Regions from separate parts of the Homo sapiens genome. Here region 2 is linked to region 1. The links come from fine-mapping of genetic effects on gene expression. Tissue or cell type: whole blood. Region 1 holds a variant in brackets; the other region holds the start of a gene. All regions are shown on one strand. Distances are between the middles of the regions.

Region 1 (8,180 bases):
TAAATAAAACCCAGTGTAAGCGAGATTGAGTGCTGAAGGAGGAAGAGAAGAACAGAGGGATGTTATTGTCAGGCTAATAGAAATGGTGAGATTTTTAGGTTTGTAAGGAGAAAAAGAAAGGCAATCAGGAAAAGTGGAATTAGTTAGATGGGTCTCCATTGCCATCAAGGAGGATTGAATCAGACCCATTGTGATTTGGTGTGCCGGCTTCTAAGGAGTTGGCACAGATCTCACCACGTCTGAGGGCAGTCTCTGACGCGGACGTCTTTTCCCTGCGGTTTTCTTTTGATGATCTCCTGGTGAAACACAAGCATATCCTCTTTCCCATGTTAAGTAGAATAAGAGACAATATTTAAAGGTTTGGGGAAATCCTGTAAGGCAGTATTTATAGCAATTAACTCAGCCTTTTGAGCAGAGGTATAAGGGGTAGAAATAAGCTTGTTTGTAGGACCTACATAACCAGCATTTACATTTCTGGAGCCATCAGTGAACACTGTAACGGCCTCAGGAATGGGCTGATCTTTGGTTAATCGAGGGACCACCCAAGATGTCATTTTTATAAAATCAAACAATTTGTTCTTTGGATAATGATTGTCAATAATGCCAATAAAATCAGCCAAGTGAATTTGCCATAGTATGGAATGTTGAAAGGCAGCTTGAACTTCAAGCTGTTTTAAAGGAACTTCAGTTAAATTCAGATCAAATCTGGAAATTTTAAGTATTCTACACTGAGCCTGTCCAATTAAGGTGGCCATTTGATCTAGATAAACAGACAAATTTTTGACACAGAATGAGGAAGAAAACACCACTCCACTAAATCATTATGTTGAACTATTAGTCCAGTAAGGGAGTGTAATGAAGCGAAAACCAGAAGCTGAAAAGGCTGAAACGGCTGTACTCTAGATAACTGGAATTTCCTCTACGAATTCCAGTTCTAGTGAAGCCTCAGGGGTCAGTCCTGGGACTGCGGAGATTGGAATCTCCCCATGGTGTAGAAAACAAGTTAGACAGCACATAGGTTGGAATACCTAAAGTAGGTCTTAAATAATTAATGTTACCCAAAAGTTTTTGGAAGTCATTTAAAGTTTTCAAAGAATCTTTCCTAATTTGAACTTTTTGAGGTTGAATATGTTGTTTATCGACCACCATTCCTAAATATTGAACAGGAGTGGTCTGTTGAAGTTTATCCTGAGTGATGTGTAATCCAGCCTCTGTAACACGGCGGCTCAAACTTTGATAACAGTCAATTAATTCTTTATCAGTGGGGGCAGCAATTAAAATATCATCAATATAATGAAGAATATAGGCCTGGGGAAATTGGGCTCAAACTGTTGAAAGCACTTGCCCAACATAAAGCTGGAAGATTGTAGGGCTATTTAGCATTCCCTGAGGAAGTACTTTCCATTGATAATGAACTGCAGGCTCCTGACTATTGATAGATGGTACAGTAAAAGCAAATTTTTCACAATCCAATTTATGTAAAGGAATATGAAAAAAACAATCTTTAAGATCAATAACTATGAGAGGCCAATTTTTAGGTATTAAAGCATGGGCAGGCATGCCGGTTTCAACGGCCCCCATAGGTTTAATTACAGTGTTAATAGCCCTTAAATTGGTTACCATCCGCCACTTGCCTGATTTCTTTTTTACCAGAAACACAGGAGAATTCCAGGGGGAAGGAGAAGGTTCCACATTTCCAAGTTGTAACTGTTCAGAAACCAAGTGAGTTAAAGCCTCCAGTTTTTCTTTAGAGAGCGGCCACTGCTGAATCCAAACAGGTGTGTCAGATTTCCATTGTAAAGGGATAGGATCAGGAGGCGTGGCAGCGGCCGCCACTAAAAAGGATAACCTAAACCCGCCCTGTTTTCTTTTACAGTAACTGGGAGGGGTTTAGTAATCCTTTCATGCTTTGGACCGAGACCGAGCCCAGGAACAAACCCCATGTTTTCCATCATATGCTGACTGGGAGCACTATAAGAGTTACGTGGAATATTAATTTCAGCCCCCCATTGTGCCAGTAAATCTCTACCAAAGGGAATTGGGTTCCCACATGCACTTAGGAAAAAAGAAAGACCATGTTGGGTGCCAGATATCGGGGGAACCCGCCCCCAATAATTCAATGTTATTTCACGTAGGTTCTTTTCTATTTCCCTAAGTGTCGGCCAGTCTGAGAAATAAAGGGAAAGAGTACAAAAGAGAGAAATTTTAAAGCTGGGTGTCCGGGGGAGACATCACATGTCGGCAGGTTCTGTGATGCCCCCCAAGCTGCAAAACCAGCAAGTTTTATTAGTGATTTTCAAAAGGGGAGGGAGTGTACGAATAGGGTGTGGGTCACAGAGATCATGTGCTTCACAAGGTAATAAAATATTACAAGGCAAATGGAGGCAGGGCAAGATCACAGGACCGGGGCAAAATTTAAATTGCTAATGAAGTTTCGGGCATGCATTGTCATTGATAACACCTTATCAGGAGACAGGGTTTGAGAGCAGACAACGGTCTGACCAAAATTTATTAGGCGGGAATTTCCTCATCCTAATAGGACTGGGAGCGCTACAGGAGACCGGAGCTTATTTCATCCCTTATCTGCAACCATAAAAGACAGACGTTCCCAGAGTGGCCATTTCAGAGACCTCCCCCTAGGAATGCATTCTCTTTCTCAGGGCTGTTCCTTGCTGAGAAAAAGAATTCAGCAATATTTCTCCTATTTGCTTTTGAAAGAAGAGAAATATGGCTCTGTTCCGCCTGGCTCTCAGGCAGCCAGACCTAAAGGTTATCTCCCTTGTGATACTTTGTGATACGTATTCATCTACATTTTTTTCTTTCTTTTTTTGAGACAGAGTTTTGCTCTTGTCACCCAGGCTGGAGTGCAATGGCATGATCTCAGCTCACTGCAACCTCCATCTCCTGGGTTCAAGCGATTCTCCTGCCTCAGTCTCCTGAGTAGCTGGGATTACAGGCATGTGCCACCAGCTAATTTTTGTATTTTTAGTAGAGACGGGGTTTTACCACGTTGGCCAGGCTAGTCTCAAATTCCTGACCTCAGGTTATCCACCTGCCTTGACTTCCCAAAATGTGGGGATTACAGGCGTGAGCCACCGCACCCAGCCTAGATATTTTTTTAATTGGTGAAAATGAGCAAAAAAAAAAAAAAAA[AAG/G]GCTTTCTCTCTTTTTTTAAATTTACCTTGTCTACCTAGTTTCCAAATAGTGTCCTTTTGCACCAGAGCAAGTTGTCCAGTTGTTTAAAATGTTGGATTAGCTACATGGTCTTTTAGGGTGCAAATCTCCTTTACCACTTTGCATTGCAAATCTTTAAAAGTCAGTAGGGTTGTTTTTCAACATTCCTTCCAGTTCTGTCATATGAAAATTCTTACTATACTAGCCTCTTTTTTTTTTTGAGACGGAGTCTCACTTATTCTGTCACCCAGGCTGGAGTGCTGTCGTATGATCTTGGATCACTGCATCCTCTGCCTCCCAGATGCGAGTGATTCTCCTGCCTTAGCTTCCTGAGTAGCTGGGACTACAGGCACATGCTACCACACCAGGCTGATTTTTTTTTTTTTTTTTTTTTTTTTTGTATTTTTAGTAGAGACAGAGTTTTGCCATGTTGGCCAGGTTGGTCTCAAACTCCTGACCTCAAGTGATCCACCCACCTCGGCCTCCCAAACTGCTGGGATTACAGGCGTGAGTCACCACGCCCAATCCTTACTAGACTTTTCTATGCCATCCTATCCCTGCCTGCCCGAGCTTGATCTGTGGAGATAGCCATCTCACCAGAAACCGTCTTAGATCAATAGTAATCTCTCTTCACCTTGCCAGCCTCTTGACCCAAATTCCTCTTTTTAACCAACCTCCTAGGACCAGAAATAGAGAGAGCTCTTAGTAGGTCTCCATGCTCTGCTCTCCAGAGCAGCTTTGGTCCTCCCACACCTTCCCCTTGACCTACCCATAGATACCCCCGGTTGCTCTGCACGAGCTTGGTAGAGGCTTATCTCCATCTCCCATGTCTTTGGCCCTCCTTTGTATCTTATTTCTGATTTCCCCCACCCCTGACTGTGTGGTAGATTCAGAATGGTGAGTCATGTGGTCTTAACCCTTAGTGCATATGCTTCGCCACTATCTCCCCAAGAGAGGATATCCTGTGTAAACTCTCTGAGAACCCACTGATTTGCTTTAAACAGGCATCGCCCATGACATTTCAATGTCTTGGATATTTCCAGAGATCTTCAGTGGCATCATGTATATACCCGTGTTTTCCTGTGACCCACATTCTCTACCCATGTGTCATATTGGTGGTTCATAGCCCCATGCCCCAGAGTTTCGGATGTTGTGAAGCAGGTCATGGACTCTCAGTTAATATTTGGTGAAATAAGAGAACTCAAAACCCTTCTCTTACGAACACTAACTGGGGAAGGAACTGGAAGGATCTGTCCTCTTTGCAGGTGGAAGCCACATTCATACATTTATCAAACATTATTGTCACAAAATGGACTGAGACGCAGTCAGTTCCTATTGGTGCAGAGCACATGATTGGTAGGACAGAAGAAGTGCTATAAAAATAAATAATGTGTGCAGTCAGAAAGAGCCAGGAACTCTTAACCCCTATGAGGGATGGTGGTGGGGATGCATGGGGAGGTGTCCAGGCAGAGGGGAGGGCTCAGAATGGTAGAGCACGGGGGTTTAGGGAACATGAGGAAAAGGCAGAGGGTGAATGAGGAGAAGGGAGGAGACTGAACTATTGCTGAGGGCATGTCTGTTTGTCCACTGTACTGTTCACCCAGCCAGAATCCTGGAGTTGGACAGGACCTCACATGCTCGGGTCCAACCTTCTTTCTTCATCAGGTAGGAGCGGCTTCCTTCCACAGTTGCTTCCAGCCTCCCTTATCTCACCAAAACTTATTCCGTGGGTCCCATTCCCCCAAGCCCTTGTGTTAAAGCTGTGAACAGGGTTTAGGGGGACCTCACATGGGCTTATCCAAGCCTCACGGAAGTCCAGTGGGGGTACCTTGATCGCAGCCAGGAATTTTGGCACCACTCAGACCTACCCTAGGAACCGCCATGTCCACACCCTCTCAGGTTGCTGAGAGCTTGTCCCTGTTCCCTGACAACACTGTCTTTGCTCTCATCTTCTGCAGGTAAGATTCTCTTCAGACGAAGCCACATCCGGGACGTGGCTGTCAAACGCCTGATACCAATTGATGAATACTGTAAGGTAAGGCTGAGAAATGCCCACGCAGTCTTCCCTGTAGGTGTATTCTGTTTTCTTTTCTTTTTCTGGCTACAAGATGCTCAACAATAAAAATTTGTGCAATTCAAAGGAATGTAAAGAAATTAGGGGGAAAATCATTCATTATCATTCAACTTAGAGGCAACAGTTAGTTATTAAGGGTTTTACATATTTCCTTTCCACCTTTTCTTTATGTGCATTTCTTAATGATGTTGAGACCATTCTGTATGTGTAATTTTGTTGCTCTTTCTCTTTTGCCATAATTATTATGTGAGAATTTCCCTACTATTAAAACATCCTCTTGACTGGGTACAGTGGCTCACGCCTATAATCCCAGCATTTTGGGAGGCCGAGGCAGGTGGATCACTTGAAGTCAGGAGTTCGAGACCAGCCTGACCAAACATGTTGAAACCCCATCTATACTAAAAATACAAAAATTAGCCAGGTGTGGTGGGACACACCTGTAGTCCCAGCTACTCGGGAGGCCGAGGCAGGAGAATCGCTTGAACCTGGGAGGTGGAGGTTGCAGTGAGCTGAGATGGCACAATACACTCCCACCTGGGCAACAGAGTGAGGCTCTGTCTCAAAAAAAAAAAAATCCTCTTAAGCCTACTTTTAATGACCACGTAGTATTCCATTATACATTCATGCTTCCAAAGTTATTTAGCCAATCCCTGTTGTTTGATGGTGCAGCAGCTTCCTGTCCCTTGAACGTCCTAAACAACAAGAGACCTGCCTTTTGGTTATATTTCATTTGACTTGAGGCTATAGTCAGGAAAGGAGCATGTTTTTATATTGTTTAGCAGCTTTTCTTTGGTATTTGTTTCTCCAAGTTAAAATCACTAGCGATTCTGATGGGAGAGGGGTAGGAATAGCAAGAAATGTTTTTTAAATGGAGCAGTGAACAATCTCCCCCTCAGATCAGGAACAAAGCAAGTATGTTTACCCTTACATGTCTGTTCTACATTTTACTAGGGGACTAGCCAGTGTAAGCACACAAAAAAGAAAGAAAAGCCATCCAGATTGGGAAGGAAAGAGTATTGACTCTTGACTCACAGATGACACGATTCTCTATGCAGAAAATCATAAGAGATCCATCAAAAAAATATTAGGACAAATCAATGAGTTTAGTAAAATCAGGATAAAAGCTCAATATACAGAAAACAATTGTATTTCTAAATCCTAGGAACAAATAATCCAGAAATGAAATTAAGAAAACAGTCCCACTCCCAATAGCATCAAAAAGAATAAAATACTTAGAAATAAATTTAACAAAAGAAGTGCAGGGTTTATATAAAACATTTCAATGAAAATTAAAGAAGATCTAAATGCATGGAGAGATATTCCATACTTGTGGATTGGAAGACTCAATATTGTTAAAATGGAACTCCTCCCAGAATGAATCTACATATTCAATACAATCCCTGTCAAAATCTTTTCTATAGGCTTTTTTATAGAAATTGACAAGCCAATCCTCAAGTGTATGTGGAAATATAAAGGATCCAGAATAGTCAAAACACTTTTGAAAAAGAACAACGTTAGATGAGCCATATTACCCATTTTGAAAACTGCCTACAAGGTGCAGTAATCAGGATAGTATGGTACTGACAAAAATAGGCATGTAGATCAGCGGAACAACATTGAGAGTCCAGAAATAAAATCCTACAAAATGTTTGATCAGCTGATATTCCACAAAGGTGCCAAGACAATTCACTGGCAAAAGGATAGTTTTTGTTTGTTTATTTGTTTTTGTTTTTGTTTTTGAGATGGAGTCTCGCCCTGTTGCCCAGGCTGGAGTGCCGTGGCGCCATCTCGGCTCACTACAACCTCCGCCTCCTGGGTTCAAGGGATTCTCCTGCCTCAGCCTCCTGAGTCGCTGGGATTACAGGCACCCACCACCATGCCTGGCTAATTTTTTTTTTTTTTTTGTATTTTTAGTAGAGACGGGGTTACACTATATGTTGGCCAGGCTGGTCTCAGACTCCTGACCTCAAGTGATCCACCCACTTCGGCCTCCCAAAGTGCTGGGATTACAGGCATGAGCCACCATGCTGGGCCGAAAAGGATAGTCTTTTTAACAAACAGTTGAGATAGTCACCTGTTGCATTCGTTTCCTAGGGCTGCATAGCAAAATACCACAAACTGGTTGGCTTACAACATCATTTAGTTTCCTACAGTTCTGGAGACTGGAAGTCTAGGCAGCAGGGCCTTCTGACCTCTCTCATTGGTTTATAGATGAAATGCCTCTTCTCCCTGTGTCTTTACAAGGTCTTTTCTGTACCTTTCTATGTCCTAATCTCCTGTTCCTGTAAAGACACAGTTATATTGGATTAAGGCACATCCCTAGTGACTTCATTTTACTTTAAATTACCTCTTTAAAGATCCCATCTCCAAATATATTCATATTCTAGGGGCTTGGGGGTTAGGTCTTTAATATATAAATAGGGGGTGGAGAGCAAAACACTATAACCCACAACAGCTATACATATGCAAAAAAAAAAAAATGAAGTTAGACCCTTATCTCAAAATGAAGTTAGATCCTTATCTCATACCATGCATGAAAATCAACTCAAAGTGGATCATAATCCTAAATATAAGAGCTAAAACTGTAAAACTTCTAGAAGAAAACATAGGAGAAACTCATCACGACCTTGAGTTGGGCAGAGTTTTTAGCTATGACTCCAAAAGTGTGAGCCTTTAAAGAAAAACTGATAAAAATTGAATTTAATTTAATTGACTTATAGACTTCTGTATCTCAAAAAGTACCATTAACAAAATGGCCAGGCCAGTGGCTCATGCCTATAATTCCAGCACTTTGGAGTGCCAAGGCAGACAGATCACAAGGCAGACAGAGGTCCAGGGTTTGAGACCAGCCTGGCCAACTTGGTGAAACCTCATCTCTACTAAAAATACAAAAACTAGCCGGGCTTAGTGGCACACGCTTGTAATCCCAGCT
Region 2 (8,180 bases), 59 kb before region 1:
AAAGGTCTCGATTAAAACCTCAAGAGAGGGTTCTTGGACCTCATGCAAGAAATAATTTGGGGCAAGTCCATAGAATAAAGTGAAAGCAAGTTGATTAAGATAGTAAAGGAATAAAGAATGGCTACCCCATAGGCAGAGCCCTGGCATGGGATGCTCGAGTCTAAGTATATTTATGGTTATTTCTTGATCACGTGCTAAACAAGGGGTGGATTATTCACGAGTTTTCTAAGAAAGGGGCAGGGATTTCTGGAACGAAGGGTCCCTCCTCTTTTTAGACTATATAGAGTCTAAAAGGAATCCTTGTCCAAACCTAAGGGAGAACTCGAATGGAAGAGAAATCCCACTTGGAATCCTATTTGAATTCCAAGTGGGATTTCTCTTCCATTCGAGTTCTCCCTTAGGTTTGGGCTCCCTGATGAACTCGAATTTGCAGAAGTGTTTTGTGTTTGTGACAAGGAACTAGTCCAGTTCCAGTGAATTGTAGTGACCATCTGGGTTGAGATTTTTATCAGCAGATAATCTGCAGTTCTCCCAAGCAGAGCCTAAATGGATCTTTCCAGTCTGAACAGCCAGCCTAAACTGCATCACCAGCCCACAATTCAGTTCTCCAAAAACTATGGTGGACACTCAGAAAAGCCCAAGTTGTCTAGGAGGTAAATGGGTGATATAGAAAGGTAAGAAGAAAAAAACCAATAACACAATTTTAAAATGCACAAAGGACTTGAATAGACACTTCTCCAAAGAAGATAAACAAATGGCCAACAAGCACATGAAAAGATGCTGAACATCACTCATCATTAGAGGAATGCAAATCGAAACCACAATGAGATTCCATTTCACATCCATTAGAATGGTTATTATCAAAAACAAATGAACGAATAAAGAAATAAAAACAGGCCAGACACAGTGGCTCATGCCTGTAATCCCAGCACTTTGGGAGGCCAATGCAGGAAGATCACTTGAGGCCAGAAGTCCAAAACCAGACTGGTCAACATAGTGAGATTCTGTCTCTACAAAAGGAAAATTTTAAAAATAGCCAGATGTGCTGGTGGGTGCCTATAGTCCCAGCTACCAGGGAGGCGGAGGCAGAGGATCCCTTGAGCCCAGGAGATCAAGGCTGCAGTAAGCCATGATCAAAATCACTGCACTCCAGCCTGGGTGACAGGATGAGACCCTGTCTCTTAAAAAACAAAACAAGGCCGGGGGCGGTGGCTCATGCCTGTAATCCCAGCACTTTGGGAGGTTGAGGGGGGTGGATCACCTGAGGTCAGGAGTTTGAGACCAGCCTGACCAATAGGGTGAAACCCCATCTCTACTAAAAATACAAAAATTAGCCAGGCATGGCGGGCGCCTATAGTCCCAGCTACTCGGGAGGCTGAGACAGGAGAACTGCTTGAACCCAGGAGGCAGGGGTTACAGTGAGCTGAGATTGCGTCACTGCACTCCAGCCTGGGAGACAGAGCAAGACTCTTTCTCAAACAAAACAAAACAAAACAAAACAAACAAACAAAACAGATAATAACAAGTGTTGGCAAGGATGTAGAGAAATTGGAACCTTTGTGCATTGCTGAGGGAATGCGAAATGCCACAGCCCCTGTGGAAGACAGTTTAGGGGCTCCTCAAAAAAAAATTAAACATAGAAGTATCACATGATCCAGCAATTCCATTTCTTGGTATATGCACAAAAGAATTGAAACCAGGGACTTGAACAGATATTTTTATACCAATGTTCACAGCAGCATTATTCAGAATAGCCAAAAGATGAAAACAACCCAAGTGACTGTTGACAGATGAATGGATAAAGAAAAAGTGCTATATACATATAATGGAATATTATTCAGCCATAAAAAGGAAATTCTGACACATGCTACAACATGGATGAGCTTTGAGGACATTATGCCGAGTGAAATAAGCCAGACACAAAAAGACAAACATTGTGTGTTTCCACTCATATGAAGTACCTAGCATAGTCAAACTCATAGAGATGGAAAGTAGAACAATGGTTGCCAAGGCCTGGAGGAGGTTGGGGGGCAGTGGGGGGGGACTCAGTGTTTAATAGGGACAGAGCTCCAGTTTAGGAAGATGAGAAAGTTCTGGAGAGGGATGGTGGTGACAGTTGCACAACAATGTGAGTGTACTTAATGCCACTCAACTGTATGCTTTAAACATGGTTGAAATGTTAAATTTTATGTTATGTATTTTTTACTACAATAAAAAAGTAAAACAAAGGAAAGATACGTAAAGATGCAGGGATAGCATCTTCTGCTACTGGTGGTTGTGGGGGGACCTTTGTCTTCCCCAGACAGAGGAGACGGACACAGCCAGCAGGACCCACCTCTGCCACCCATGGTGTGGCTGGGGGCAGGTCTCTCTGCCTCTCCGGAAAAACCCAGGAAGCTGGCTGATTCAGAGAGGGCCTCTAGCTTCTGCCTTCTTAGGAAGGCTTGGCTCCTAATAAGGCAATGCACGATGTGGCAGGGACGGAAAAGCAGACCTTCACTTCTTTGGACATTTCCAATGAGGCCTCAGGACCCTCTGGCTTGGGACTGTACTTCAGAAGAATGTGCCTTACAGGAATTACATGAGTGAGGGTCCTGGCACCGAACAGATGCCACCCTCAAGCTGGGTCCATGAAGACAGTTTAGTAAAGGGTCAATGTATACGGGTGTGGGCGGGGCTAAGGAAGCACCGAGGATGGCGTAGTACCCAGGGCTTGCAACAGCAAGACTGTCACTGTCCTGAGCAGAAAAGTGGCTTCAGGAACCCTGAGAGAGACCATGTGAGAAAGGGCACCTTTGGTAAAAACAATCGGGGAGGAGGGGCTTAGGGATTAAATACCCAGACCTCCCTCTCTCCTCTTGCCCTCAATCTCCTGCCAGGCCCTTCCACTGGCCAAGCCAAACAGGAAGACCAGGACAGAGAGCTGTCAGTGAAATCCACACAGGCCAGCCTCTGGGGCTGGAGCAGGATGGTAAAGTCTGGCAAGGAAGTCAGAGGAGCAAATGGAGGGGCGGATCCAAAGTGAATCAGCCCAAATCATCCACGTGGCCTGGCCGAGGCTGAGAGCCGTCCTACCCTGGATAAGCCCACCCTTTTCCAAAGGCTGATCCTGGACCGGGGTGGGAAGTAGCTCTGTCGTGGCATGGAGAAGAGTCGTACGGTTTGTTGAAAAGAGCCCCCACTTACTGGCTGTGAAAACACTGGCCAGGAGCCTAAACCTCCCATCCATGCATTATATATTCATTTATCCATTCATTCAGCCAACATCTCCTGAAAGTGACTCAGTGCCCAGCCAGTGCTAGGAGGCACTAGATGAAGAAACGAGGAGCTGCCCCAGCCACGGCAGCTTCAACGTGTGAGATCCACCTAGAGCCAGGCAGTGACGGGCTCCATCCACCGGCTCCCTGACTCTGGACCTTCACTGATGTAATTCCTGTAAGGCACATTCTTCTGAAGTACAGTTCCCAAGTCAGAGGGTCCTCAGGCCTCATTGGAAATGTCCAAATGTCTGGAGGCCGTCCTCTGTAAAAACACCTTTTCCTCCTAGAGTCTGCCTGAGGATGCAAAGACAGCATTTGTGAAAAGCAGGGGCCACGGGGCCCAGCGAGCAGTTAAGTGCTCCGCAACTGGAAATCGATGGCCTTGCTAACAAGCACCCAGCTGCCCCTCACACATAGTCACCACCCTTTTATCCCCTTTTGTTGCTTCCATGGCAATTACATTGCACGTATGCGCATTTGTTGCAGTTTTTCTCTCCCTCACTCCCCATGTCCCAGACTGAGGCTGGGGGAACCTGGTCACGGGTCTCTTGCTCCTCCTGAATCACCAGGGCTTGGGGTGGCTTTAGGAACGCCAGCACTCATACCATGGACTGCACTGCGGAATGGCTTCACATGCACTTAATCCCGGGCGCAGCACCGGCAGGCAGGCGGTACTACTGACACGTGCTACAACATGGATGAGCCTTGAGGACATTATGCCGAGTGAAATAAGCCAGACACAAAAAGACAAACATGGTGCTTGTACTACTAGGCTCATATTATAGACGAAGAGACCCAACCCAGAGAGGTTAAGCAACTTGCCGAGGGCACAGAGTGGAAAAGCGGCAAAGCCGGGATTCGAACCCGGGTGTCCGGCTCTCCAAACTGGCGGTGGATGGCGGCTGCCGGAGCGAGAGTGCTGGAATGAATCGATACGTCAATCAGTGAACGGGCGACGGGGTCAGTCCAGTCCCCTCCCCCGGCGCGGCGGCTCAGCACCGGGACAAAGGCCGGGCGGGGGCCGGACGTGGCCGGCGGGGTTCGCGCGCGGTGGGCGGGGGTCGGGGCCGGGCCCTTTAAGGGGGGCGGGCCGGCGGCGCGGGGGGCGGTGCGGGGGGCGGTGCGGGGGGCGGTGCGGGGGGCGGGCCGGGGGCGGGCGGCGGCGGCTGGGCCCGGCTGGAGTGCGCGCCGAGCGAAGGGCGGCGGCGGTGGCGGCGGCGGCTCGTGCTCGGCCCCGGCTGCGATTGCGCTCAGCTCCAGGTTCCCTGCCCGCGGCGGCGCGCCCCCAGCGCTCCCTGCACCCCGCGCCACCCGCACCCGCGCTCGGCCCGCTGCGGGCGGAGGAGCGGCCATGCCGCCGCGGCGCAGCATCGTGGAGGTGAAGGTGCTAGACGTGCAGAAGCGGCGGGTGCCCAACAAGCATTATGTGAGTGCGGCGCGGCCCCCACGCCCCCTTGAGCCCGCGCCCCGTCGGGGGCGACCGAGGGCCCCCGGCTTGGAAAACTTCTGCCTCCAGCGCTTCCCGTCCCCTCCTCCCCTGCTCTCCCCTCGGCTCTGCGGCGGCGCTGCCCGGGTCCCTCCCGACTCCTCCTCCCTCCCTCCCCTCCCCTCCCCGCTTTTGCCTCGTTCTCCCCCTCCATCCCTTCCTCCCGCCTCGCCCCCCTACTCGCCTCCCTGCGGCTCCTCTACCCCTTTCTGTCTTCTCCGTGTCCCCCCAACTCCCGTCCTGCTCATCTGTGGAAAAGTCTGGCTCCAGCCGGTGAGGGGTCTGAGACAGAAAGCGGGAGAGACAGAAGTGCCTGTTCTCAGGCCGCCCGCCTTGCCCCTCCTTGTCCAGAGGCGCGCAGACCCGCAGTCCCCAGCCACAGGTAGCCCCTCTAGGGTTCGCCGAATTTGACTCCGTTCTTTGGCAAGAGCCGGCCTGGGCGATGGAGGAGATCTCTGGGAATGGATCATTTGAGTGGCTACGCCTTTAAAGGGTTAAAAACATCCCCTGCCCCCTCTCTCCAGTAACTTCTGTTTTAAAATGTACGAAAGTTTTCTCCTGGCATCTCCCTCTGGAACATGGGAATCTTGTTTGGAGCTGGCAAGGACTTGAGAAAATGGGACAGTAGCGTCGTTTTGCAGATAGGAAGGCTGAGGCTCAGAGGTTGCAGGTCCTGGAACATAGAGCTGCATTCGGGCTTCCCTCCCTCCAGCAGGGGTGCCTGGGGCTGACGGTGACCTGCAGGTGGAAAGTGGCTTCCGCAGCAACCTAGGGGACACGTCTGCAGATTCAGGAGGCCCTGGGACCACCTCGCAGGTTCTAGGTGGAGATAAAGGGGATGTGGGGTGATGGGCCCACATGAGGCCTTGGGGAGGGCCTCATTACAGCAGGGAAGGGGGCTATAGTGTCTCTGGCGGTGAGAAGTGGGCAGTGGCGGAGCCTGGCTGCAGAGAAGTTAACCAGGAAGGGAAAAAGAGTAAGAGGGAGGGAAAAAATCCTAACAAAGAAGTATAGAACAATGAATAGAAAAGGGCGTTGGCTGGCTAAATTAAGCTCCTTGGCCTCCCTGGAAGTCGTCTTCAGATCTTTTTTTTTTAAGAACTAATTCTTACAAAGTAGATCTGCATGCCTTCCGTGAATAGCCTGTGAAATTCTGAAAGGAGATAGCCGGGAACCCACTCCGCGCTCTCCACAAGAAAGGGTGTGCTGTGTGAGTCTGTATTGTTATTGGCTGGGCAGCCAGTTATTCAGCCCTTAGCCAGGCGGTGGGAAGCTATTTCCTGGACCTGTGGCATCTTTATATAGAGTGAAGTTTCCCTTGATTCCAGAGCTGAGCTAAATTGTCTTTTTTTTTTCCTTCCTTTTTTTATTTTTTGTTAACTGTTTTCAAATGCTGCCAAATCTTAGTTTCTTGTTTGAGCCTGTTAGCGTGTAAGTGAGTTTGCCTCTTTGGCATGAAGACAGTTTTCACCAACATGGCAACTGGAGGAAGTCTGGAATTCTCCATGCCACCTCCCACCAGGTCTGTGAGCTGGCAAAAACGAGAATAGATACTGCCACCGAGGCCCGGCCATCATCGTCCACGCGCCCTCTTCTGGCCTCTCCTATCACGCCCATATCAGGCAGAGGGCCTTAAGCCCATTTGACAGATGAGGAAACCAGGGCTCAGCAAAGTGAGGTCCCACGCCTAAGGTCACAGTCAAGAGCCAAGCAGGGATGTAGATCCAGGCCCGCTGGACCCCAAAAGGACCACACCACTTCCCACATCCGGTACCCCTATAGTTTCTCTGAGCAAAGTCCTCTGAAAAACTGGGAAATCTCTCTTATCATTAGTGAAAACCTGGAAGCTTTTCATTCTCTGCTGTGTCAGCTCCATCCTTGCCAGTTTTTTGAAGGTTTTGCGCTTTGAGAACCGTCTTTTGAAGCTTTCAGCCACTTTTTGGGGGCCCCCTGAGACAAGTTTCTATGTTAAAACATAGATTGGGATTCAGATCTTGGCCTCCCAGGTTGTAGCTGTGTCACCTCAGCCTCAGTTTTTTCATCTGTGTAATGGGGATGGTGGTGTCCATTTCCTAGAGGTAGCAGCCGCATGACAGGCTGCCTTAGGGCATTCCTAAATGCCCTAAAGGCATAGCTCCCTGCCTGCCTGTCCTGAGGTATCTTGTCACTGATTGGGAACATGCCAAAGTCACATGGTAGGGGGATTCATCAAGAACTTGTTTTTCTGCATGTGGCTTTAGTCACTCATGTGATTCAAGAGGCCCTCTCCCTTCTAGCCCAGGCTTCTGGGTTCATCAGATGAGGAGGGGCAATGGGCTGAACTGAAGCCTGAGTCATCCACAGGAACAGAGAACATTTACTGCCTTGATGGCAGGGGGGCCAAACCCAATGGAAACAGATCCCTGTGGTGGGCGACCGCTGCTGTTCCCAAGCTCCACCCCAACCCCTCACACAATCTGGAAAGAGCGGGCATGAAGGCAGCTATTGGCAGGCCTGGACTTTGACTCCCATTTGGTATCCCTTTTTCTGAAGCCACCCTGGAGAGACAGCATCAGCTGGGGAGTTGAACTTTTCTGCTGTGTGACCTCGGACTGGTTGGTTTGCCTCTCTGAGCTCTAGCTTCTGTGTAAATACTGCTACATCCCTCAAGGGCAGAGTTTCTCAAACTCAACACTTTTGACATTTGGGGCTGGATCATTCTTTGTTTCAGGGCTGTCCTGTGGATTGCAGGATGTTTAGCAGCTTCCCTGGCTTCTACCCAGCTAGTTATCCCCCTTCCCAATTGTGACACCCAAAAGGCCTCCAGGCATTGATTGCTGCATGTCCTCTAGGGGGCAGCACCACACACATTCCCACCCCAGCCACTGCGCCATAGACTATAAAGTCAGTTTTTGAGAGTCCTCTTCACTACGCCCCCTAATTTCCCACTACCCCTCTCCCCATTTGCAGCCATCTCGGCCACTACCTGCTCATCACTCACTTGCCTGTGAGGGACAGGGTCACAGGTGCTGTAGATGTCATTGGAGAACTGCACCCGGAGTTCAGGGCTGCCCATCAGGGCTGGGCCACCTGCTCCCTCTGAAATGGTGCCTTCTCCATGATCAGAATGGCGTCCTCTCCAGCCCCAGCCTCAGTCACCCGCAGGCAGAGACATCATCCATGGGCCCAGGGGCAGAGCCACAGGCCAGGTCTGGAGAATGCAGGGCCAGAAGCTCCAGGTGCCTGTGAGATCCTGAGAGGCTGATGACAATGAACCATGATATTGTTTGGAGAGCCTTTCCCTGGAGCCACTGCCCTCTGTTGGAAGCAGGGAGATGAAGATTTGGGGAGCTCCTGCCTTTCTCTGCCAGCATCTTTCCTGCACTAGAGCCCGAGGGCTTGGGGATGAATGGAGAGGGGCTTTTGAGGGTGACATCCTGGGAGACCCTCCCCAG

Evidence for each region. PIP is the estimated chance that this variant, and not a neighbour inherited with it, causes the effect.
Region 2: SH3PXD2B starts here. The variant in region 1 is fine-mapped to the expression of SH3PXD2B in whole blood (INTERVAL, PIP above 0.99).

Annotation. Positions count from the first base shown.
Region 1 is chr5:172,391,592-172,399,771 of GRCh38, reverse strand. SH3PXD2B (SH3 and PX domains 2B) reads left to right here. Exons shown (of 13, transcript NM_001017995.3): 4 at 5,133-5,209. Among named protein-coding and RNA genes, the nearest start is that of SH3PXD2B, 59 kb to the left of the region's middle. RefSeq lists a silencer at 4,000-4,200. The variant AAG/G (reference allele first, on the strand shown) is at 3,154.
Region 2 is chr5:172,450,784-172,458,963 of GRCh38, reverse strand. SH3PXD2B (SH3 and PX domains 2B) reads left to right here and starts at 4,439. Exons shown (of 13, transcript NM_001017995.3): 1 at 4,439-4,686. The coding sequence starts at 4,612. RefSeq lists an enhancer at 4,952-5,473.